Homo sapiens: one gene and its partner. The protein of the gene in region 2 purifies or fractionates together with the protein of the main gene of each other region. This does not show direct contact. Each region holds a gene or a part of one and is shown on either strand. Other genes may lie near its edges.

The links.
Region 1: the proteins of FAM53C (region 2) and FNTB purify together in Homo sapiens (affinity purification with mass spectrometry, with the first as the bait; 3 studies listed by BioGRID). This does not show direct contact.

The regions. Positions count from the first base shown.
Region 1 is NC_000014.9:64,977,854-64,994,058, reverse strand, and holds the start of FNTB (protein farnesyltransferase subunit beta), read right to left. Parts: upstream 7,165-16,205; 5' UTR 7,106-7,164; coding exon 6,962-7,105; exon of another isoform or gene 6,946-6,961; intron 1-6,945. UniProt on the Homo sapiens protein: Essential subunit of the farnesyltransferase complex. Catalyzes the transfer of a farnesyl moiety from farnesyl diphosphate to a cysteine at the fourth position from the C-terminus of several proteins having the C-terminal sequence Cys-aliphatic-aliphatic-X.
Region 2 is NC_000005.10:138,338,677-138,348,265, reverse strand, and holds part of FAM53C (protein FAM53C), read right to left. Parts: intron 7,083-9,589; 5' UTR 7,050-7,082; coding exon of another isoform or gene 7,002-7,049; 5' UTR 6,931-7,001; coding exon 6,853-6,930; intron 6,458-6,852; coding exon 6,400-6,457; intron 3,442-6,399; coding exon 2,657-3,441; intron 1,565-2,656; coding exon 1,307-1,564; 3' UTR 1-1,306.

The DNA of each region.
Region 1 (16,205 bases), on a different chromosome or scaffold from region 2:
ACATGGTAAAACCCCACCTCTACTAAAATACAAAAATTAGCCGGGTGTGGTAGCACATGCCTGTAATCCCAGGTACTTGGGAGCCTGAGGCAGGAGAATCGCTTGAACCCAGGAGGCGGAGGTTACGGTGAGTGGAGATCGCACCACTGCACTCCAGCCTGGGCGACAAGAGCGAAACTCTGTCTCAAAAAAAATAAAAATAAAAAAAGAAAAAAAAAAAGAAATCCAATCAATAAAAGCAGAGAATAGTTTCCATTCAGTAAGTGGTAAACAACAACTAATGCATTTGGCACTTTCTCTTTCACAGCTTCTATCTAAAGCCAATCTCATGAGGCACCAACTTTCATACCAGGCACTATCACTTCTCTGCTTCCTATATCTCCCTCCTCTCCCAGAGACAGAATGTTTCAGAAAGTAGATTTGCTGCCTAAGATTCATGTCATTGAAGCTGCAGTAGAAGAGTCATTTAATATATGAAATATAAGGCAAGACTTTTCAAAAAAAATTCTCTCTCAGAAAATACAAGTCACTTTATATTCAAATACTTACAAAGTACCTCTTGCTGTAGGAAGTTTTGCAATTTCCTTATTTTGAATACAAAGTACCAGCTGGGGATGACACAATACCCTAAAACAACCTCAGTTAAGGCTGCTTTGGCTAATGGTAATCAGTGAAACAAGATAAATTAAACACAAATTTAGTAATTATCCCTGGAGATATAAACTCACACTTCCATGTGTAAACTGCCATTGTAAGGCCAGCTTTTTATTTTGTTTATTCATTTTTTACTTTTTTTAGAGATGGAGTCTCACCCTGTTGCCCAGGCTGTCTCGAATTTGTGGGCTCAAGCTATCCACCCACTTGGCCTTCCAAAGTGCCAGGATTACAGGCATCAGTCACCATGCCTGGCCAGTAGACCAACGTTTTAAAGATCATTTTAGCTGGGCGCGGTGGCTCATGCCTGTACTTTGGGAGTCCAAGGTGGGCGGATAGCTCGAGTTCGGGACCAGCCTGGGCAACACAGGGAAACCCTGTCTCTACAAAAAAATATAAAAAGTAGCCGAACATGGTAGCGCACGCCAGTAGTTCCAGCTAGTCAAGAGGCTGAGGTGGAAGGATCACTTGAGCCTGGAAAGTTGCTACAGTGAGCCATGATCATGCCACTGCACTCCAGCCTGGGAAACAGAGTGAGACCCTGTCTTTAAAAAAAAATAGAAATCATTTGAAAAAGTAATAAAGTGGTTAAGTTGCAGTGACCACAAATATATACCAACTGGAAACACTGCAAAAAAAAAATTCTAGGCTCACGTCTGTAATCCCAACACTTTGGTAGGCCAAGGCAGGCCTGTGAGGTCAAGGCTACAGTGAGTGGTGATTGCATCACCGCACTCCAGCCTGGGCGACAAAGTGAGACCCTTTCTTAAAAAAAAAGTCTAATGTTATGCAAGTGGATACTTGTAACTTGGAATAAACTGTTCAGTGGTAACACCTTATTCATATTCAAAAACGATGTATCTCAAGAACTGAACATGTGGTCCGGAAATCCACATTGGCTGACTCAAAAAGTGGCTCCAGTGATGATAAAAATAGTGAAGTCAAAGATGCATGTGAAGAGTCTGAAAAGAAACATTTTATAAATAAGAAGAGGAGGAAAACCAGCATTTCTAAATTAGTGTTACTTTATAAAGTAGGTGATTTTAAGTAGGTATATGGACCCAAATTTAAATGTAAATTTTGTAAGCAGGTATTTTTCACTTATATACCTAAAAGTACATGTATTTTCAACTTGACCAAAAACAACCTTTTGGACTTTTTAATGGGGAAATTTTGATATGCAGGATTACTTTACACTTGGGCAATATGGTATATGCTGAATTTCAATAAAATAAAATGGATTCAGAAAGCTAGCCTACTGACCACCTAACCAAGCAGAGCTCCAGTCCCTTCTATCAGAGGCATAAAAAGTTGGGAAGTTTTATCATATTTAGTGATTTGTTCCACCTCCATTTACTAATATTTTGGATCCTATAAGCTGAAATAAGTCAACAGCAGGTCAGGATTCTGTTCCGCTGGTCCCTCCTTAGGATATGTGGTGGCCCACTGCCCGAACCTGAAGCCAGCACATCACCTGCCTCTTAATACCCTGATAGGGGCCCACCCGCCCAGCTCACCTCATTTCCTACCACATCCAACCTGCACCCTCCGTTCCTGGTAAGCCATCTTAACGCCCCCAGTCAAGCCTGAGTCTTCCCTCAAAACAGCTCTCCCTCCTTGAATGGCTGCCCCAAACTCTATTTTTTACAGCCCACCCAGTTCCACGTTCTCCATGAAGTCATCCTGACCACCTCAGCCCACACAGATGGCTTTTCAACTCCCCAAAATCCTCGTGCAAAGCAGTTATAATTTAGCACTCTGTGACTGCCTATAGCATATTCTTCTTATTTTTTTCTTTTTTGAGATGGAGTCTTGCTCTGTCACCCAGGCTTGAGTGCAATGGTGCAATCTCGGCTCACTGCAACCTCCGCCTCCCAGGTTAAAGAGATTCACCTGCCTCAGTGTCCTGAGTAGCTGGTATTACAGGTGCACACCACCACGCCTAGCTAATTTTTGTATTTTTTTAGTAGAGATGAGGTTTCACCATGTTGGCTAGGCTGGTCTCAAACTCCTGACCTCCAGTGATCCGCCAGCCTCAGCCTCCCAAAGTGCTGGGATTACAGGAGTGAGCCACCGCACTCGGCCTTACAGCATATTCTTTTTTATCTCTCTAAGATAAAAGAATTTTGAGGGCAGGGATCAAGACTAATAATTCTCTTATATTCCCCTCAGAGTTCAAGTCACTTCATTGACAATGAACCATGCCAATGGTTCAATGACACCATGCCATTTAAAGTGGAGGACGCGTTTGCCTCTGTTCAAAGACAAACTCAAAGAAAAACAGTAGTATCTTTTGTAAACACCTGTTTTTGGCAAGGCTGCTACCTCTGAGACTATCAGTATTAACCTACTGGCCTGAATCAGAGTGTCTGCAATGGGATGATTCCAGATGGCACAATAAGGAAGGCAGGCACTAACAATACAACCATGTCTTGTTCTCTAGTGTCATGAAAGGCCCTCCCTGCATCTGCATTAACAAAACAGCTTAGCAAGGTAGAGACCTTCATAAAAATATCCAGAGCTGACCATTTCTCATTACCTCCACTACCGTCACTGTGAGCTAAGCCACCGTCACCTCTCTCCCAGGATACTGCAATAGCCTCCTAACTGGTTTCCCTGTATCCACCCTCACTCCCCACCATCTACTCTTGACAGTAACCTAAATGAGCCTGTTAAAATGCTAGTCAGACTGTGTCACTCCCCTGCTCAAAACTCTCTGATCATGGATCAGTCTAAGTCCTGGCAGGAAACAGATGGCACAAAGTGGGTGATTTGAGGAGAGTTTATAAAGGAACTATTTACAAAGATGTGGGCAGGTGTAGGGAAACCACAAGAGAAAATGCAGTATCTGGAGCTGGTAAATCAGGGGTACCTGAACTCCTCATAGACCTGAAGGTGTGAAGGATGGAGAGGGAGGGAGACAAAGAGCTCCGCAGAGAAGGCACATGACAGGAAATGTGACCTTAAGTCTAAGGAAACCCCACCCCACACAAGCCTGCAGGAGGGAAGAAATACAGTGGTCTCATTCTTCTCCTTCTCGGTCACCCCCAGCAATACTTCCCATGGCCCGCAGCCATAAAGCAAGGCAACCTGTCAGTGCAGGGCCCCCTCCTGGGGCACATCTACAGAGCAGGCTAGAAAAGGGCCAAGTGAATCTGGGGCAGTAAATGGCAGGTATACAGCCAAGTGGCTCTCCATCTCAGTCAGGGTATTTTAAAGTACTTCCAAAGGCCAATGAGACCCTACATGATCCGACCCATCTCCTACTCTCTGGTTTGCTAAGCCCCCTGCTCACCTGGCATTCTGCTGCCTTGGTCCTTTGTGCTTGCTGCTTTCTCTGCCCAGAATACTCTTGCACCAGATCCATGATGGCTTCCTCCCTCATCTGAGACTTCAGGTCTCAGATCACATGTGTTGTCACCAGAGGGTTCCCCTTAACACCTTATATGAAGACCTCCCCTGCTCCCACCCCACCCATTCCTGACACACCCTATCCCCTCTATCCCAAGGTGTTACTCTCCACAGCGTTTCTAATTAACATTTTATATTGAGATAGCTATAGATATTAACTCTTTTAATTGACTGCCTCATTGGCCTAGAAACAGTTTCATAAAGGCATCAACTTGGCCTCTTTTGTTTAACAACTTATGCCGAGTGTCTAGAACAGTGCCTGGCACGTAGAAGGCGCTCAAGTATTTGCTGAATGAATGAGAATCAACGAATGGAACAGACGACTCACAGCTAAGGACTCCTTCCACTATTTATAGGTTTAACTCCTATTACCAAATTATTGCTTAACAAATAAACCGAGTCTTCTGATAATCAGATAGGAAGCAGGTAACAAGCATTTATTTTTTGTTTGTTTTTTTTTTTAATTTGAAAAGCTTTCATCTTAAATAGACACAGGGTCTTGCTATGTTGCCCAGGCCAGTACCAAAATCAGTATAGTCGTTTTTTGTTTTAAGAGACAGGGTTTTACTCTGTTGCCCAGGCTAGAGTACCGTGGCTCGATCATGGCTCATCTGTGAACTTCTGAGCTCAAAAACAATTCACCCACCTCAGCTTCCCAAGTAGCTGGGACTACAGGTGCATGCCACCACGCTCAGCTACTTTTTTTTTTTTTTTTTTTTTTGGTAGAGACAGGGTCTTGCTATGTTGCCCAAGTTGGTCTCTTGGGCTCAGGTGATCTTCCCGCCTCGAACTCCCAAAGTGCTGGGATTACAGGTGTCAGCCATCAATTTGTTTTTACTGGCAATGGCACAAAATTGAGCTATCAGTAAATGGAAGCTTTAGTTAAAACTGAAAGAGTACTAGTATATCCTCTGTAAACAACTCCTCCTAACAAGGTTGTTACTTTTGATGAATGTATCATTAACCTACCAATGTGGTAGGTCTCTAAACCTCAGTCTTCTCATCCATAAAAAGTGAAAGGATTGAATGATACCACATATGGAGAGCATTTAGCACTGTGCTGAGACTCAATAAATGGTCACTAACATGATTATTAAAACAGTGAGGAAGGCCACAAAAATGAGATACAACATTATCATCCTACTACCTGAAACTGTTCATCCTAGACTCTAATAATGTGTGCTGGAATAACAACATGAAAAAGAAATATAAGATTCTTTACTGTCTGCCATACCGTTGGGTCTAGATTTGAAAGATACTCGCACCAGGAGCAGTGGCTCACGACTGTAATCCCAGCACTCTAGGAGGCCGAGGAGGGCAGATCACTGGAGGTCAGGAGTTCAAAACCAGCCTGGCCACATGGTGAAACCTGTCTCTACTAAAATACAAAAATTAGCCAGGCGTGGTGGTGGGCGCCTGTAGTCTCAGCTACTCTGGAGGCTGAGGCAGGCGAATGGCGTGAACCCGGGAGGCGGAGGGTGCAGTAAGCCAGTGCATCCCAGCCTGGCAACAGGGCGAGACCCCATCTCAAAAAAAAAAAAAAAAAAAAAGGCAATCCCATAGTCTAAGGTCAGATAATAAGTAAAACACTTGACCTGAATCAACTCAGCAATCCATCATTTAGGAATTCTGCAAAGATCCTGTAGGTTTTTCATCAATGGGAAATTTCTTTACAATCTTTTGCAGTCAGCCTTCCCTGGGACACACTGGTAGGCAAACCAACCTGGAGAATTAGCTAGATTCGAGAGGTGAGGATTTCCTTTGCTACCCTAAATTCCATGAAGTTTAAATCTCCAGTTAAAATATTTTCTCTGCTACTTTGTGAATAACCACGTATCAAGCCCTTGTTTCTGTTATAAATTTATAATTCTATTTAGTCATAACTGTACAATAAAACAATTATTGTTACTAATTTTGCCAAAGTACAGGCTTCCAACTTAAAGTAGGAAATACAAAACAGGTCTCTCCAAGGTAAAGCCTGGAGACTGATCTCACTAAGAGATCTTATTTCAGTAAGCAGCAGAATGTTCATTTATTAGTGTTAAGAATTATCCTAACCACTTCTCCTAGGGACAGATGGATAAACAGTTCCACATAGCAACCTTGGGAACAATTCCAATTAGGGAATAAGAAGAAAAACAAAACTATGGTTTTGGGCATATGAATATATACTCATTCGCCAAACACTTTTCAAAATGATAGGTTCGATCCTACTTCTAGGCCTTAGGGAATGATTAGTAGTCCAAAATCCATTCTTTCTATTAGATCACTTTCCAAACTGTTTTCCTGCCTGTCCCCCAACCAGGCTCCTGGTCAGGAGCTGTTTTATTTCCTTGTACTTCCATCGTTTAATATTGTGTCCGACACGTAGCTGGTGCTCAAATGGCTGAATGACTACCAAAATGCCCACCCACGAGGCGGGCCCCCAAACCTGGCACTGTAGGTCAAAAATTAAACAGATCGTGAAACGGCATGACAGCAGCCTGGCCCTGCTCTCTGCCTCCAGAAGCTGAGGGCAGGTTGGGAAAAGTGCACTATGCACCCCAGAACCTCCCGAAGTACTGGCAGAACAGAGTGGGCTGTCCGACCCGCACGGGCTGCCTCTGTCCTCCAGGCATAGAACACGATTCTTCTCGTTCTTTAGGGCAGAGGGGACTCGGCTACTGCCCTCTCCTCCAAGCCCAACCTTGAAACGACCCTTCCCCAAGCTGGCCGCGCAAACGCTCCACGACGAAGCCCAAGCCTGGGCGCCCGGAGCTTCCCAGAGGAAAGGCACCGCGGTGCGCTGTGGGAGTCGTAGTTCCCCGGTGAGTTCCGCACCCGGGCGGCCCTACGAACGGGACTCGCGCTCCCAGAACACATCGCGCGGGCGCCTCGCCCAGTCCTGCCACCTCACCTGTTCTATGGACGTGACTGTTTCCACCGAGTCGTCCTGCAACCGCTCTCGCGCGTGCTCGGGCCTCAGACTGTACAGCGGCTCTGACCAGACGGGGGAGGAAGATGGAGGGCAATAGTAGGTGAAAGAACTCGGAGAAGCCATGATCAGGAGAGCAGCAGACAGTGTGTAGGACTCTGCTTCGTTAAGCAACAACGCGCATTGAAACTCGAGCGGGCTAAAGCGCTACGGCGAGCGGATAGAGGCAAAAAGATTTTGAACGCGAATGTCTCCTCCCGCCTACCCGTCTTTCGAGTGAGTTACTGAGATGCTGCCGCCCCCCATTGGGCAGAGGAGCTGCTGCAAGAGCGTAGAGTCCTGAAGCGCAAGGGTGTCTACATCCGAATTTCATTTCAGCGAGATGGCGTAGGACGCCTCGGTTTGTTACGCAAATTGTTAAAGAACTGTAACATTCTGCTAATTCTCACTTAATTGTAATGCAATTGTTTGCAATTTCAGGTGCCCAAGAACCCAATGAATGTTAAGTTTGAAAGCATTTCTGACAGCTCTACTGATTTGCCTCAGTCAGGCAATTACTAAAAGAATTATTGTGCACCTTGGGGTACTTGACAGCCTCCCAGGAGAAGGCAGCAGCTGCTCAAACGTGCAAGGACGCCGTCTCAGTATCACTCAGTGATGGAGGGAGGGGGGTATTATGATTTTCTCCTGTCTCTTGGAGGTTACACTGCAGTAGCGAGAACTGAAATGCAGTACAAGGAACAAGGATAAGTGAAATAGACAGTCAGTCCGCAGATATTTATGGAACACCTGCTATGTGTCAGGCATTGTGCTAGGTTCTAGGAATACAAAAGTGAACAAAACGAAGTCCCTTCCCTTGGAAACCTTACATTCTAAGAAAATCGACAGAATTGAATGTATCCAACGCAATAAATATATGAAGACTTGTGATAAATGAGATGAAGGAAAATAACAGGGTCTATGAGAGAGACTAAAGGGGTAAGAAACTAATTGAATTGTATGGTCAGGCCAAGCCTCTCTAAATGACCTTTCATTTGAGATCCGAAGGATGACGAGGAGTCATCCAGAAGAACAGTATGGGAAAGAACTCCTGAAAAAGGAAGAAACAGCAGCTTTTAGAAGACATGTGCTGGGCACGGTGGCTCACGCCTGTAACCCCAGCACTTTGGGAGGCTGAGGCAGGAGGATCACTTGAGGAGTTAGAACATCCTGGGCAACATAGCAAGACCTCATCTCTATTAAATATCAAAAAAATTAGCCGGGCGTGGTGGCGCATGCCTGTAGTCCCAGCTGCTCGACAGGCTAAGGTGGGAGGATCTCTTGAGCCCAAGAAGTCGAGGCTGCAGTGAGCTATGATTGTGCCACTGCACTCCAGCCTGGGTGGCAGAGCGAGACCCTGTTTCAAAAAAAAAAAAAAAGCAAAACAAAAAAACAAACAAAAACCATAGGCTCAAGTGACCCTCCTGCCTCAGCCTCCTGAGTATCTGGAACTACAGATGCTCACCACCACGCCCAGCTAGAATAAAAGAAATTCTTATTGATTCTTATGGAGTGGACTTACTCATCACACTTGCCTCCAGAACAACCAAGTTTAAAGTTGTGATTTTTAGGAAAACGCTGCTACCTTTGGACAAGCAATAGAAGAGAATTTATTTTAGGGCATGCATCAAAAGTACTACACCAAAAATTATAATACCAAGAGATTAAACTGGGGGAGTTGTATGTAGGAGATTATAGAAGGTATGATAACAGACATTCCGGGTACACTTGGAGACAAGCTTTACTTCCTGCTCAGAGCACTTCACTCTGTTCCCACTCCATTCCATGTCACATGTCTAGGATCCAGGGATTATAGACCAGAGTGACATTTGACAACCAGCCATTCCCCTGTTCTCAGTCTCTGGTAGTAAATAGAAGCACTCACAAAAATTTCAAAGATGAGGCTGGGCTGGCCTAAAGACCTCAGGTGGATAAATACTACCACCATGTCCATTTTAGTGGTACTGTTGCTGAACTAAGACCTAGAGGCACCAGAATATTACCAAATCTGGAAATAAGGGGACAGTATGGGTTAGGACCCATGGATAAGGCTGCACAATGTGAAATGGTCTCATTATACTGCCCCCTGTATTGGCATCTTACTGTCTTTCCCTTAGTTATATTTTGGGAAATAAATGGTCTGATAAGGTCAGGGTTATATCTAAGGATTCAGCCTTTGTCACAAAGAGTTTCTTTGCAGGAGAGCTGGAAACTTAACGCTTCAATCCTGAAGACTGTGCTATTGAAAGAATAGCTGGGACAGTTTTGTGACAAATTGTTGCATCTGTCACAGATGCACCTAAAGCAATTGCAAACTGTATTTTAGAAATAAAAATTCATCTCTGAAATTCAGTCTCCTCTGCAGTGGGATCCAAAAGATGTGAATAGGAACATGGGCAAGAGTCTCCGGCAGGATAGTGTGTTCTCATTCAATTAATGTTTATTGAGTACAGGGTAAGTGCTGGGCACTGAGCTAAGTGCTAAGGAGACAGCAGTGAACAAGCCAGACACAGTCTCTGCCATTATGGGTCTCATGACTTACCAGAAAAAACATTAAACAGTAATGACAGAATTGACTCTTTCATGACAGTTGGGAGAAATGGGATGAGGCAGAAAGAAGCATGGAGTGTGTGAGCTTGCATGATGGGGGGACCCTAAGGTAGCCTGGAAGGTCTGGAAAGACTCCCATGAGGAAGTGAGTTAATTAATCCAGGGGATGAGAACATCCCAGGCAGAGGAAACCCAGTGACAACACCAAATCAAGTGAAACCAGCAATGAAAAATATGTGGGGTTTGTACTCCATGTAAGCATCAAGAAGACCTGGATCAAATAGCCCACTAGTTGTCCCTCCTCTTGGTTTAATAAAACCACTCATTCAAGAAGCAGAATGAACATAAATATTAATGGTGCTATAGAGAATGATATATTTAGAGAGAAAACTCTTAGTCATGATAATAGCAACTCCAGCTTGGACTGCAGATGGTTTATGTTTATTTTACTCACATGCCTGATACTCTTTTCTAAATTAAACTGATCGTGTTTCTTTAAAAATAATATTAAATGTGGACCGTGCTGTTTTATACTTTTAAGAGCAAGAAAAAGAAAAAAGTAATGGTCTAAATGAACCCCTAGAGGTCGCTTCCGACCCTGGAGTGCGTTTAGGGAGTAAGTTTTAAAACTGCTCTCACCGTTCTCCCTGTTTTCACTCATACAAGCCGTATGTCGGAATGAATTGTTTCCTTTAATATCTTGTGAAACTGTGTAGTAATACATATTGGAACATTTGGAAAATGGAAAGAACTCATCTATTATCCCGCTAGGTAATTAACTTCCTCCCCAAGTTTACTGCCCACCATCATCTGTGCCCTCCTACTCGGCGGTCCTGTCCCTCCTATTCCCCTAGATGGAATGACTGCCCCATCTCCTACCTAGGACCAGGTCATCTCCCTCCCCTCACGCGCCACCCCCCAAAGACTGTCGCAATTCTCCCTTTCCTTTCCTAAAACACCAAATTTTTCCTCTACTTGATCATCCAGATCTCCCTCAAGCATGCCATTTTCTCATTCTTGGCAGCGTGGAGGGTGAGGGGCTTTTTTTTTTTTTTTTTTTTTGAGACAGAGTCTCGCTCTGTCGCCCAGGCTGGAGTGCAGTGGCGCGATCTCGGCTCACTGCAACCTCCACCTCCCGGTTTCACGCCATTCTCCTGCCTCAGCCTCCCAAGTAGCTGGGACTACAGGCGCCCGCCACCACGCCCGGCTAATTTTTTTTTTTTTTTTTTTTTTTTTAGTAGAGACGGTGTTTCACCGTGTTAGCCAGGATGGTCTCGATCTCCTGACCTCGTGATCCGCCCGCCTCGGCCTCCCAAAGTCCTGGGATTACAGGCATGAGCCACCGCGCCTGGCTATGAGGGGGTGGGGGGGGGTGCATCTCTAACCCTCTTGATTCCACTCCTTCTCCAGCTACCTCCCGATGACTCATTGGCGGAGACCCTTGAAAGATTTGCTACTACTAACGTCTCCAGGTCCTCTCTTCCAACTCTCTCAAGCCCATTCTAATCAGGTTTTCCAATCGTTTCTTATCAACTCTCCATTAAATTCCATATCGCCAAATCCAAGGGCCAGGTCTCAGTCCTGATCTCAAGTCTTCCTTCTTGACTTCCCAGCAATATTTGCACAGTTGATCATTTCCCTTCTTGAAACACATTGTCCTTGTGGTGCCTCACACTGGTTTTCCTCCTTCCTTGCCTTTCTAATATCTTGGATACCTTAGCTTGGGGTACCCCAGGATTCAGTCCTCAGACTTCTTATCTGTCTGCACTAACTTCCCTGTCAGCTCAGGCAGTCTCAATGTTTTAAATAACACTTATAGGTTGAAAACTCCCTAATTTGTATCTCCAACCTGGATCTCTCCTGAACTCCAGAGTTCATGTCTAATGTCTATTTGCATTTCCACTTAGATCTCCAATAGGCATCTCAAACTTAACATATCCACAACAGAGCTGCTGGTCTTCCCTTCCAAACTTGTGCACTCAGTCTCCCCGATCTCTATTATGATAACTCCATCCTTCCAGTTACTCCAAATACCTTGGAATCATTCTTGCTGCCTCTCTTTTTCTCACTCCTTGTAAGTTCTGTTCTAAATATATCTAGCATCTGATCACTGCTTACCAATCCCACTGCCAGTGTCCTGGTCCAAGCCACCATCATCTGTTACTTGGATTCTTACACTAATCTCTTAACTGTTCTCCCTCTTTTCACTCTTGTCCCCCTGTACCCTAATACAAACTTGCTATAGACTGAATGTTTAGGTGCCCCCAGTAGTCATATGTTGAAACCTAATCCCCAATATGAAGGTGTTTGAAGGTGGAGCCTTTGGTAGGTGTTTGGGTCATGAGGGCCGAGCTGCCATAAATGGGATTCATGTCCTTATAAAAGAGACCCCACAGAGCTCCCTCACTCCTTCTGCCATATAAGGACACATAGAGAAGGCATCACCTATGAGCCAGGAAGCAGGCCCTCACCAGACACCGAATCTGCAGGTGCCTTGATGTTGGACTTTATTTCTGTTGTTGACAAGGTACCCAGTGTATGGGATTCTGTTCTAGCAGCCTCAAAGATCCAAGACAAAATGAAAAAGCCAGACTGAACTTTTAAAAATGTAAGCAAAGCCACCCCTTCACTCAAAGCTCTCTTCTCATCTCAAAGTCAAGGTGGCCTAGAGAACCCCATTCACCTCTCTGGCCCCTTCCCTTGCACTCTCCAGCTTGCTCACTGCCTTGACACTGGCCTCCCTGCTGTTCTGTGTACACCTCTCCTGCTGCAGCCTCAGAGCACTGATGCTTGTGTTGCCTCTCCCTGCAGAGCTCCGCCCCAGACATAGACACGGATTGCCCTCCCTTCTTATAGTTTTTACTCAAATTCTTTTTTTCTTTTTCTTTTTTTTATAATTTATTTTTTCTAAAAATTTTTATAGTGATGAGGTCTTCCTGTGTTCCCCGCGCTGGTCTCGAACTGCTAGAATCAAGCAGTCCTCCCACATCAGCCTCCCAAAGTGCTGGGATTACAGGCATGAGCCACCATGCCTGGCCCAAATTCTTTAATCTAACCCCAATTTCCCTTTTCTTGAGATCTTTCCTTCCTCCCCATGTAAAATGGGAGTGCCACCCCCTTTGGTAATAGCTTAATCTCACTCCCCTGCTTTATTTTTCTCATCACTAGATCAGAGACTTTATATTTTGTGTATTGATTTGTTTACTATCTGTCTTTCTCCACCAAAATGTAAGCTTTATGGGGCAGGGATTTTTTTTTTTTTTTTGGTCTGTTTTATTCATTGCTGTACTCCCTGACATAATAGACACTGAATAAGTTAAATGGTTCAAATGATTTCCAGTCATTGTAATGAACATTTGAGTGCTTGTTTGTGTAACATAATTGTAGATGATAATGACAATGAACATAATACTAGCCTTATCTTTCAAGAGCTCACTATCTAATAACTACAGAGACCATGTAAATAAAAATGAGTATAAAATAAAAGTATAAATATAAATAAATCTATTAAGTAGAAAAGATTAAAAATGAAAAATATATATAAATGATAAAAACATAAAATAAGACATAATACATATACACAGAATATATTCCCCAAGAATGTATTCTCTTACAGTGGGAATGTAGCTGAAGGAGTAATTCATTCTAATCTATTTAATGAAGATGGCCTTTTATGTATAATATTTGTGTTTAGTAACATTTGTAAGAGACTAGTCTGAAGTAATCATTTTTTAATAATTATATCGAAATTTAGAAATTGTGAAATGTATTTTAAAATGTTCTGTATTACACAAAATGGAATATAAAATGTTTCCAATCATAAAAAACAAAAGAATAGCTTTCTAAATGCAGTACAATGATTTCATGGCACAAAGAACAGCTGTGAGCTTCTCAGAAATCAATAAATCATCAATACTACATGGCTGCATTATTTTATTGTGTTGTATGTTGATATGAAATAAATTACATTATATATTATTAATCATTACATATACTCTATTACTGAAAACCTGTGCAAAAGTATTGACTCACAGTCCTGTTTTGGGTTTATCATGGTGAATATTTTACCAGCAGATACAAAATGGAAGCCAACTAAACAACATTGTTCACCTTGAAAACTCTAAGAAATGATTTTTTATTTGGCTGGGTGTGGTGGCGCATGCCTGTAATCCCAGCACTTTGGGAGGCCGAGGCGGGTGGATCACGAGGTCAAGAGATCGAGACTATCCTGGCTAACATGGTGAAACCCTGTCTCTACTAAAAATACAAAAATTAGCTGGGCATGTTGGTGTGCTCCTGTAGTCCCAGCTACTCCGGAGGCTGAGGCAGGAGAATCACTTGCACCTGGGAGGTGGAGGTTGCAGTGAGCCAAAATCACACCACTGCACTCCAGCCTGGTGACAGAGCAAGAGTCTGTCTAAAAAAAAAAAAAAGTTTTTTTTAAACTGTTGAGAGGCAATGCCAGAGGTGTACACTGTAAGGCATACCAGTGACTCTCAAGCCTGGCTGTGCACTGGGATCATTGGTGGAGCCTTCGAAAATCCAGATTCTCCCAGGCACCAGCCCAACCAACTAAATCAGAATCTGTGGGGCTGGGGCCCAGGCACATGCATTTTGTCAAAGCTCCACAAGTGATGCTGACTCACAGCTAGGGTTGGAGCCACTTTGAAGCTTCTTTGTATGTGGTAGAAACATGAGCTGTCCACCAGAGACTGGCTCCCCTTCCACAGGGAGAGTTGCAGCTGGGAAGTGGCTGCTCAGCAGTCTCCTTTGCATTTAGGCAGAGGCTTGTGAGTGGGTGCTGGCCAATAAAAAGTGGAAGATGTGATATCCACTACACCTAGACCTGACCCTTTAAAACCTTTCATGCGATCCTCTATTTGCTCGCTTCCCCTCTCTGCCAGGTGAAAGTCAATGCCTGGGGTAGCCCTCCATTGTGCGGAAAAGCAAGAGAGATCAGATTGTTACTGTGTCTGTGTAGAAATAAGTAGACATAGGAGACTCCATTTTGTTATGTACTAAGAAAAATTCTTCTGCCTTGAGATTCTGTTAATCTATAACCTTACCCCCAACCCCGTGCTCTCTGAAACATGTGCTGTGTCAACTCAGAGTTAAATGGATTAAGGGTGGTGCAAGATGTGCTTTGTTAAACAGATGCTTGAAGGCAGCATGCTCCTTAAGAGTCATCACCACTCCCTAATCTCAAGTACCCAGGGACACAAACACTGCGGAAGGCCGCAGGGACCTCTGCATAGGAAAGCCAGGTATTGTCCAAGGTTTCTCCCCATGTGATAGTCTGAAATATGGCCTCGTGGGAAGGGAAAGACCTGACCGTCCCCCAGCCCGACACCCGTAAAGGGTCTGTGCTGAGGAGGATTAGTAAAAGAGGAAGGAATGCCTCTTGCAGTTGAGACAAGAGGAAGGCATCTGTCTCCTGCCTGTCCCTGGGCAATGGAATGTCTCGGTATAAAACCCGATTGTATGCTCCATCTACTGAGATAGGGAAAAACCGCCTTAGGGCTGGAGGTGGGACCTGCGGGCAGCAATACTGCTTTGTAAAGCATTGAGATATTTATGTGTATGCATATCTAAAAGCACAGCACTTAATCCTTTACATTGTCTATGATGCAAAGACCTTTGTTCACGTGTTTGTCTGCTGACCCTCTCCCCACAATTGTCTTGTGACCCTGACACATCCCCCTCTTCGAGAAACACCCACAGATGATCAATAAATACTAAGGGAACTCAGAGGCTGGCGGGATCCTCCATATGCTGAACGCTGGTTCCCCGGGTCCCCTTATTTCTTTCTCTATACTTTGTCTCTGTGTCTTTTTCTTTTCCAAATCTCTCGTCCCACCTTACGAGAAACACCCACAGGTGTGTAGGGGCAACCCACCCCTACACTCCATAATCAAAAGAACGTCATGCCACATGTTCTAGAAGTTAAAAACCTCAATTAACAAAGAGGTCTCTTTCAGTGTTTCACTCCACTGGACAAACGGTATCCCTTTGTAGATTCAAAATAATTTTCTGGACAGATTTAGTGACATCTTTCCAATGTATATTATTACTACTCCTTTCAAACAATCTTTTTCAAGTCTGCTAATTTAGAACTACAGGGTCAACTCTCCCCTGTCCTGTTGACAGAGCCCTTCTTCCCCTGCTGTCTACAAGGCAGTCTTAGAGGGGTCTTAAGTGTATAGTTAGGTAAAAAAGGAGACCCTATAAGTCCTGATATGTGAGAGACCTGGGGTATGGCGTCTCTTTGTCTTTGGTTGGCAGGCACTCTCTCTGATCCTTCCTGCAAGGCAGATCTTATAAAGAACAATGTCGGCCGGGCGCGGTGGCTCACGCCTGTAATCCCAGCACTTTGGGAGGCTGAGGCGGGCGGATCACAAGGTCAGGAGATCGAGACCATCCTGGCTAACAGGGTGAAACCCCGTCTCTACTAAAAATACAAAAAAATTAGCCGGACATGGTGGCGGACGCCTGTAGTTCCAGCTACTCAGGAGGCTGAGGCAGGAGAATGGTGTGAACCCGAGAGGCGGAACTTGCAGTGAGCTGAGATCGCACCACTGCACTCCAGCCTGGGTGACAGAGTGAGACTCCGTCTCAAAAAAAAAAAAAAAGAGATTAG
Region 2 (9,589 bases):
CCAAACTCCCAACTGCTTCTCACAGCCTTTGCTTTATACATCCTCAGCCAATCCCTCAGTGAGCCCCAACCTCCCTATGGTCTCTCAGGCCCAATTAGAGGCAAATAAACACTTCCTGGCAGGAGTGGAAGACAAGCAAACTATTAAATGCTAAACACCCCTTCTTCCCTCTCAAGCAGGTCAAAAAGGCTGGGCCTGGATCTTGTAAGAATTGGTTTCCTGCAGTCACCTTCCCAACAGCAGTGCTGGGGTGAGCTCACCCATGTCTGCTGGGGACTGAATGCCACTTCTGTTGCAGGTCTGCCTCAGTAGATGCTGGGGACCAATATAGGGCCTTCCTACCTAGTCTATGACTTAGAAGGGCAGAGGGTGAGGGGAAAAGGGTCCCATCAGCAGAGGAGAGAGAGAGAGAGCCCCTCAACCCTGCTTCAGTTGCCCATGTGCTGTGTGCAACTCTACTCAAGAGGGCAAAAGAGGCAGGTGGAATATAGCCTGGACAATCTGATGAGAAAAAAAGGCCAGCTCAGAAAAAATATGGTGACACCCCCCACCTGCATTCCCCAATATACTAGATCGAGCTAGTGGGGAGGGGGTGGGGCTGAAGAAAAGATCATTAGCTGAAGTCACAGCACTTAAAACACCCTGCTGTACCCCAAAATGAAATCCTTTGCAGAGTCGGTGATGCTATGGATTACAAGCCTGGTTCCAGAGCTATTTAGAAAAAAGGAAAACTTGGTGCCCTCCTCTTGACTCCTTGAGCAAACCCAACATCCTGTAAAAAACTCAAGATCCTGGGGGTATCATGATACTCTGCTGTTAAGGAGCAATTGCCTTCCTTCCCTAAGGCTACGCAAACACACCTTTCCACAAGTACACTCCCATGCACGCACACACTCTCACGCAGTTTCTCTGAGGAGGCTGACTCAACCCCCCACCCTGGCCAAATTCTAAGACACAAGTGCCCTTTGAAGCAAAGGGGCTAGTGAAATTCCCCGAGCTGGGGTCGGCAGACCCCTTCCTTCCCTGCCCATTGCTCTCTTGGTGGCAGGGATACTCACACTCAGGGCCGCCATAGGAAGGGTCTGCTCTGGGGCTGTCCCTCCCGCCACCAGCTCCGTTTATCTTGTCCCGGCCAGTCTCTTGGCATGGTCGAGCTTGCTGGAGCGAGAAGATTTCCAGCTGCCCTGAGTCGGAGCCCTCCACTCACCCCCATTCCCAGGCTCGGCCCCCAGCCTTGGGGACTCGACACTTGTTAGTAGCCATGAGAGAGTCAGTCTGTGTGGCCCCAGGAAGTAGCCTCTCAGTTTTAGTTTTCCTCAATCAAATTCAAGTCCAGGTCCCCAAAGTCCCGCTGGCACAGTGTCCGCTTGCTCAGCGCCTGCCGACCCCACCGCACAGCCCCCTCCTCCTCCTCTTCGCTTTCACTCAGCACCTGGGAGGAACCCCCAGTGGGGCTGCAGGAAGCAGAGAGGGGTGGGGGGCTACAGGCCATGAACCATGGTGGAGAGATGCTGCTGCCTTCCCGGGCTGTTTCTTGGAGACAAAGACCTCCTGAGTATGGTTTCTGTCAAACAAACAAAGAAGACAGTTACACCTGAAGGCAAGAATTCTTTAGGGTGAGGTTTGTAAACTTTTTTTTTTTGAGACGGAGTCTCACTCTGTCACCCTGGCTGGAGTGCAGTGGCGTGATCTTGGCTCACTGCAAGCTCTGCCTCCCGGGTTCACGCCATTCTCCTGCCTCAGCCTCCCCAGTAGCTGGGACTACAGGTGCCCGGCCCACGCCCGGCTAATTTTTTATATTTTTAGTAGAGACGAGGTTTCACCGTGTTAGCCAGGATGGTCTCAATCTCCTGACCTCATGATCCGCCTGCCTTGGCCTCCCAAAGTGCTGGGATTACAGGCGTTAGCCACCATGCCTGGCGTTTGTAAACTTTCTGACAAAATTTGGAGCCCATTGTTTCCATTGAATTGAAGAATAGAAGCTCCGTGAGGGCAGGAACATCATCTGCAGTGTTTCATTACTTTGTACTGCCAGTGCCTAGTCAGAGTCAGTAAATGTTTGCAGATGGGATGGACGACTGTATGAAAAAATTAATTAATTCTTAAAGAGGTTTGTAACCTAGTGGTCTAGAAAGAATAATATGAAAAAAGTGAGCAAAGTGCATACATACAATAATTGTACTCACACCAGGAAGTCAAAAAACATTTGTCTAACAGATGAATACACTGTAGCAGCCCATCTTGCTTCAGCCCTCACAGACCCACTTTGAAGCAGTGACAGGCAAGTGGCAAAAACAGCTTTGGGCACAAGGAGTAGGTACTGATGGAATTTTTTGCAGCTTGTGCATTCTTGGAAAGGAGGGAAAGTACCTCTTGCAGGACAATTTGGGATCTCTGTTGGAAGGTTTAACATGGGTCTCACCCCAGTTTCTCTAACTCCCAGGATTAAGGCATTTCACAGGATGGGGGGACTTTCAGTGCTAACACTGGGACAGTCCCAGGCAAACTGGGATGGTAGGTCACCCTAGCTAAGAGCTAAAGGAGGTGCTGTTGGTGGTGGGGGCGGCAGGGTAATGAAGCTAGGGGCTAGCTCAAAAGTGGAAACAGAACAGTCCCCACACTCCCATCTAAGCTCCCCTAGTCTTGCTGGTCCCACCTGATTCATCTTGTCAAAGTCCAACGAAGGCCGCAGACGCCGGGGGTCTTCCTCGTGGCGCCGCTTGACCCCAGTTTTGCGGGCATCCAGATCACAAGGCTGTGAGCGGCTTCGGGGAAGGTTGCGGAGACCTCGAGGTCGCCAGGGCAGCTCTGGGGAGGATGCGGGAGAGCTCCGGGCAGAGGGCAAGAAGCGGCTTGCCTGCGGGCCCAGACTGGGTGACAGGGAGAAGCGGCGCTGAGGTGGGCAAGGTGACAAGGACTCAGCATCACTCTCCCAGGAGCCACTTTGAGGGGAGGCGGCGCAGGGTCGAGAGGAATCTTGGGCCAGGGCCAGGCTGAAGAAAGGAGGGCTGTAGGGTCTGTGAGCTGGGGCACATTGAGAAGAGGCACTGGGAGCTTGGAGGAACCTGAGGCTGGAGACCCGCTTTGGGGGGCTCTGGTGAGGCACCTGCGGCCCACCCCCTCCACCACTGCCCCGGTGCTTTATGGGAGTCCACAGCTTGGAGGGGGCGGGCCGCCACACCGGCTGCCAGCGAGACAGGTCCACGGGCACTGAGAGTGAGCGGCAGTGCCTCTTGGATGGAGGGGCAGGGGGCACAGGAAGCTTCTCTGGATCTGGGGGCTCAGGTCTTAGGACTTGGGAGAAGGGCTGCTCCTTGGGGGAGTTTCCCCGACTGGGTGGTCTGAGGTGCAGGCTCAGGCCTGAGGGATGGTAGCTGAAGTTGAGGCTGTCCTGGAACTCAGCACAGGAACAGTGGGGCAGGCCCCTCCAGGAAGCACCTTCTGGAAGGCATTTATAATAAGAATAATATTAATGATAGCTTACATTTTTTAAGAACTTACCATTTGCCACATAATGTATGGAGCATTTTATGTGAAAATTTCCAAAAACCTTATGAGGTAGGTAGTATCGTTATCATTATCCCCATTTCACAGATAAGAGAAATTCAATAACTTTCCCAAAATCACATAGCACTCAAAAGACCAAAGGAGGATTCAAATCCAGGTCTGTCTGATGCGAAGGCTAGGTTTTTAAACCACTATGCTCTATTGCCTCCATTGTGACCAACTACCTGGAATCAAAAACATTTCATCTACTGCCTGCCACTCCCTCTCAAAGGTAAAAGAAGTCAAGAGAAACAAACACGTTTGTGAGTGTCCTGCTCATCTCTCCCTCGCCCCTCCCCCACGCTTGCCCTGGATGCTGAAAAGCAGGCCTATGCTCTTCTTTCTCGGCCTTTCCTCCTCTCATGTGTCAACAGCACCAAGTCAGGAGTTAGGACTGCCAAGAAGTAAGAGGTAATCAGGCAGGTAAGAGATCACTTTTATTCCTAGGGAGGGCAAACAGGGTGGGGAAGGCCTTTGACAGTGAAACCTGGGCTTGGGAAACCCTGACTTTGTGCTGCTCATCTTCGTTTCTGTCTGGCCACCCACATATTCCGATTCCCTTCCCCTAGGCCTTCTCTTAAATCCAAACAGATGGAGGGACCAAGAGAAGGAAGGGAAAATGGACTAAAAGAAACAATCCTCACTCACTGTATTCCAACCAAAATTGTGACTTTTGGGAGACGGCTCATTAAGGGACAAAGGGCCTAATCCAAACTCCTCTGGCTAGCTGGCTGGAATTCTGCAGGGGCTGGATATTTGGGGCAAACGACAAGTATACGAAGTCAGACTTGATGGTGGCAAAATTCATACTGAGTGTATTTGGTCTATAGTTCTTCCCTCTACTAACCACTATGAGGGCAGGGACCATGAGTTCCTGCTCTATACTTATGACACAATACCTGGCTTTCAGCAAGTCTTTAATAAACAGGAGGAAGAGACTGAATGAACATGTTTTTGCCAACTCACTTCCCTTGCTAGGTATCCCAGAAAAGAAAATGAGATGCAGAACTGCTGAGCAGCACGAGTTAGGGAGTTCTGATTGTCCACCAGTGATGCCTCCATCTAAATGTCCCTACGATCAGGGGCCCTTTAACTCAGTAATTAATAATCTACGAATTTATACCTCAGATATATTTTCACATGTGAAAAAATGACATATGTACAAGGTTATTCACTACAGTTTCTTTTTTCTTTCTTTTTTTTTTTTTTGAGATGGAATCTCGCTCTGTTGCCCAAGCTGGAGTGCAGTGGGTGCGATCTCGGCTCACTGCAACCTCCGCCTCCTGGATTCCAGGGATTCTCCTGCCTCAGCCTCCTGAGTAGCTGGGATTACAGGCGCCTGCCACCATGCCCAGCTAATTTTTGTATTTTTAATAGAGACGGGGTTTCACCATGCTGGCCAGGCTGGTCTCGAACTCCTGGCTTCATGCTATCTGCCCACCTCGGCCTCCCAAAGTGCTGGGATTACAGGCATGAGTCACCACGTCTGGCCCACTACAGTTTTATGTATCCAAACAAGATTAGAAATAACCTAAATGCACATCAATAGAAAACTCATTAAATAAGCCACTGTACATCTATGCAGTGTAATAATATGTAGCTATATATAACAAGGGAATGAATACTCAGCATTCTGATAGGGAAAGATCTCCTAGCTATATTAAAGTTTTTTTTGTTTTTTGTTTTTTTTTTTTTTGAGATGGAGTCTTGCTTTGTTGTGCAGGCTGGAGTGCAGTGGCATGATCTGGGCTCACCACAACCTCCACCTCCTGGGTTCAAGTGATTCTCCTGCCTTGCCCTCCCGAGTAGCTGGGATTACAGGTGTGTACCACCATGCCAGGCTAATTTTTGTATTTTTAGTAGAGACAGGGTTTCACTGTGTTGGCCAGGCTGGTCTCGAACTCCTGACCTCATGATCCGCCCACCTCGGCCTCCCAAAGTGCTAGGATTACAGGCATGAGCCACTGTGCCCAGCAATTTTTTTTTTTTTTTGAGACAGAGTTTTGCTCTTGTTGCCCAGGCTAGAGTGCAATGGCGCAATCTTGGCTCACCGCAACCTCTACCTCCTGGGTTCAAGTGATTCTCCTGCCTCAGCCTCCCGAGTAGCTGGGATTACAGGCATGCGCCACGACGCCTGGCTAATTTTATATTTTTAGTAGAGATGGGGTTTCTCCATGTTGGTCAGGCTGGTCTTGAACTCCCGACCTCAGGTGATCTGCCCACCTTGGCCTCCCAAAGTGCTGGGATTATAGGTGTGACCCACTAGGCCCGGTCCCATTTTTTTTTTTAAAGGTACAAAATAATATATAGTATGCAACCTTTTGTGTTAAAAACGTGGAAATAAAATAGATGCAGCTAACCACCATGGCACATGTACACCTATGTAACGAACCTGCACGTTCTGCACATGTATCCGAGAACTTAAAAAAGAAAGGAAATAAATATATACATTTGCTTCTTTTTATATAAAGAAATTCTAGTCACATATACTGTATAAGAAACTAATACTTTTAGGGAGGTGGTAGAAGCTGGGTAGATAGGGAACGGGAGAGTAAGAGAGACTTTTCTCAGCATAACCTTTTTGTTGTTATTTTTTAAATTTTGAACCATGTGAATGTATTACCTATTCAAAAAATTAGATTATACAAGTCCCCACAAAGCTAGAATAAGAGCAAACCAACCAGATAACTTTCATGCTAGAACATGAAAGACAACTGTCAATCTCAGAAGTTGACCCTGGCAAGAAGGTTCTAGAGGTAGGCTCGCTAGCCCTGGTCACTGGAAACCAATGATAGAAATGTGTGGAGAGAGGAATGGGTACACACACGTACACAAACACACACGATGCCTTACCAGACACAAGCTGGAAAGAGTTCCCACAGTTGGAGATGTCTGCATGATCAGGCAAAGGCTAAGAAAGAGAGAATATCCATCATGATTTGGATTCAGGACACACTGACAGATTTCTAGGAAGCCCTCTTCAGTTCTCCTCTGCGATTCATGAGCTACAGGGATGTTAGGGACATTAAGTGTTCTTCCTCTTGTCTTCCCAAAGTTAGTAAGTCAAACAATCCACATCTTCCAACATCTCAAACCCTTCTCCACCCAAGTTTTGCTGTCCCTTCTCTATCGGTGGAAAAATCCCTGCCCCCTTCCTTTTGGGCTGGGTTTTGAGCCATTAGTGGGCTCTTCCAGGTTAAGTACCATGATTCATACAGCACAGGACAAGAGTAAAGTAATAGCAACAATCAGCCTCAGAAAAAAGGGGGAGGGGGTCGTGGAGAAGCAGGAAGACTGGTCTTTTACCAGACTGATGCTGAAGCGTGTGCATTTCAGCTCATCCAGAGTCTGCTTCTGTAGCTGCTCAGTGATCAGGGTTATCATGATTCTCCCCAGGATTTGACTTGCACACTTTGGAGCAAATGATGGATGTCTTCCCTGTTGTTCTTCCAGACCTCACTTGTGAGCCGTCTTCTGCCACTGCAGCACCATTCTAGCACCATTGGGACTTCCCTCTCCAGTCATGCCTGCTGAGTCTGCCAATTAGAGGGACCAGCCCCAAGTGATATTAGAGATGCACCTGGTCCAGAGATGGAAAATGCATGGCACACATACCACAGCACCCCTAAGCCAGGCCTCTGGCAGACATCAATTGATCACAGCTCTTTCCAGCTAAGCCTAAACACAGCTTCAGAAATTATGAACTTGGCAGTCCAGATATGAAATAAAATAGAGTTGGCAATCAAGTTGAAACTTATTTGCTACCCTTAAACTGGTTCATGCTCTGTTGTTTCTAACTGGAATACCAGCACCACTTAGAAAACAGCTGCTCAAGTGAGAGAGAGGGATGCCCAAATGATTATTTCCATCAAGATCAGCCCAGTATTTTATCTTCCAGTCAGAAGTGAAAAGAGGTACCCTTCTCCTAAACTACAGAAATAGTAATAAGAGAACAAGGAAGAACAGTGGTTGTAGGCAAGACTTTCTGCTTTAGACCTGAGTACATAGGATTTTATGTCCTCCCACAGCCTAAACATCTGATATATTATTGTTTTCCAATAGATACAGTGTTTGTTTTCTTATCAAATGGGAAGATAAAGAAATGGTCAGGGTAATTCCAATACATTTCAACTCTACAGACGTCGTAAACAACAACTCCATGACTGTTCAACTAAGTTTTTAGCCTCATCTGATGCAAAGTCCATGGATACAGTTAACCAAGATTCTTTCTCGTGGTCAACTTCTGATAGAAGCAAACTAACTGTATCAGATAACAGGCTTCAAGCCCACACAATTACCTGAGGGGCCTTGCTCAAGGGAAAAGGGGAGGTTAAGCCAGTGTCTTGATTTTGTTCTATCTATTCCCGGAAATGAGCAGCAAGCTGACAGCTTACCAGAGAATGTGTGTAGCATTAGCTAGTCAAGAGAACAAATCATCAAGAAATCTAATTATTAATCCAATTTGCTAAGAGTTTTGACAAATCATTTAATACTCCTTGGCCTCAGTTTACCCATATGTAAAGTGGGCAGAATAATCTTAACCTGTCACAGGAACAATATAACATATTAAAATGTACAAAATGTACCATCTGACCTATAAAAATCAGGAGTCCACACAGACTACCATTTCTCGTTCCCGTTTGTGAATCTTCAAGGCCTCAGAATGTCAGAAGTAATGAAATCAATAAGATGAAGAAGGCAATAGGGTCCATCTCTCTGGCTGAATACCATCCTCCCTCACCTGCACACTAAGAAAAGCCCAAGAGGGCTCTTCCTTCTGTGACCTTGGGGGCAGATCACTCTACAAAAAAGAGGAATTATCTCTACCCCACTCACACCTTAGAAGGAGGGCACAAGGAAGAGCAAAGAGATAAACCTGGATGTACCTGGAGTTCTCTGGAAGAAAGGTGCAAGAGAAGTCAATCATCATTACAGTTAACTATCATTTTCATGCATAATTATTACCACCCTGAACAAAATTCTAGCTTCCGGGGAGCTCTCTTCAGCTGCTTCCCCTATATTCTTACGGGAGAAGCTAAAGCTTATATCACTTCTGCTCTTGGTTTCTTAACTCTGCTGCCCTCAAAGATCAACCAGAGAGGGAACCTAAGTGCAGGATTTTACCCTAGAGACCCCAGGCCTCAGGCTAACCAGCTATGAGGAGCAGGGAATGAAGCAAACTCTCCAGCTTTTCATGAGGCATTTGGACAAACAGCAAACTCCCAGCCACCTCTAGGATCAAGTCAAGACAGTGAATTTGTGTTTTTCTGCATTTTAATTGTTGGGATGTGGCCACACACAGTGGTAATTGGAACAATGCAACTACCACCACGCAACTGATACTCTCAGCCTGAGTTTCCTAAAACAGGCCAGGCTGCGAGGGGGAACAGAACGGAAGCCATAAGGAATCAAACCAGGACACAAAAGAAGGCAAACCAGCTCCGCGAGGGGCCTCCTCTTTCTCAAGCAGGCATTGAAAAAAGTGTAAGAAGCCCTCTCTTGCCGCCTTCCTTCCCCTTCCATTTTGTGTATCTGAAGGGTAGAGACAGCCCTGAATATTCACTAAACAAGTTAAAACTTCTCAGTTTAACAACTGGCACGGGGCTCAGCCCTTCACAGAGCAGCAGGCCGCTAGGCCCTCTCAGCAACCCCACCAGACCTAACTCTCAGTCCAGGCTTTCCCTCCACCAGCAGCCCCCAAAAATAAAGATCAGACCCCCACCCCATCTCCTATTGGATGGCAGTAACCCCTGACACTCCTGTTTCAGGGATGCTGAGGTTGTGCTGTACCAAGACAAGGTAGGATCAGGTCAGGCCAACAGGGAGGAGAGTCACAAACCCTTTGGGGACCTTCCCCTCAGGTCCCAGCCCCACACCTCCTGGGGAGACTGAAGAAAAACATGAGGAAGGCAGGGAGCTGCATGAACAGGTAGGTGGAGATCTGCCTGCTCTTCTTCCATATGGTTCTGGTGGGGAAAGGGGTGACAAGTGGGGAACACCCCTCCCCCCACCCCCATGAAGAAGCAAAAGGCTAGGCCCCTCC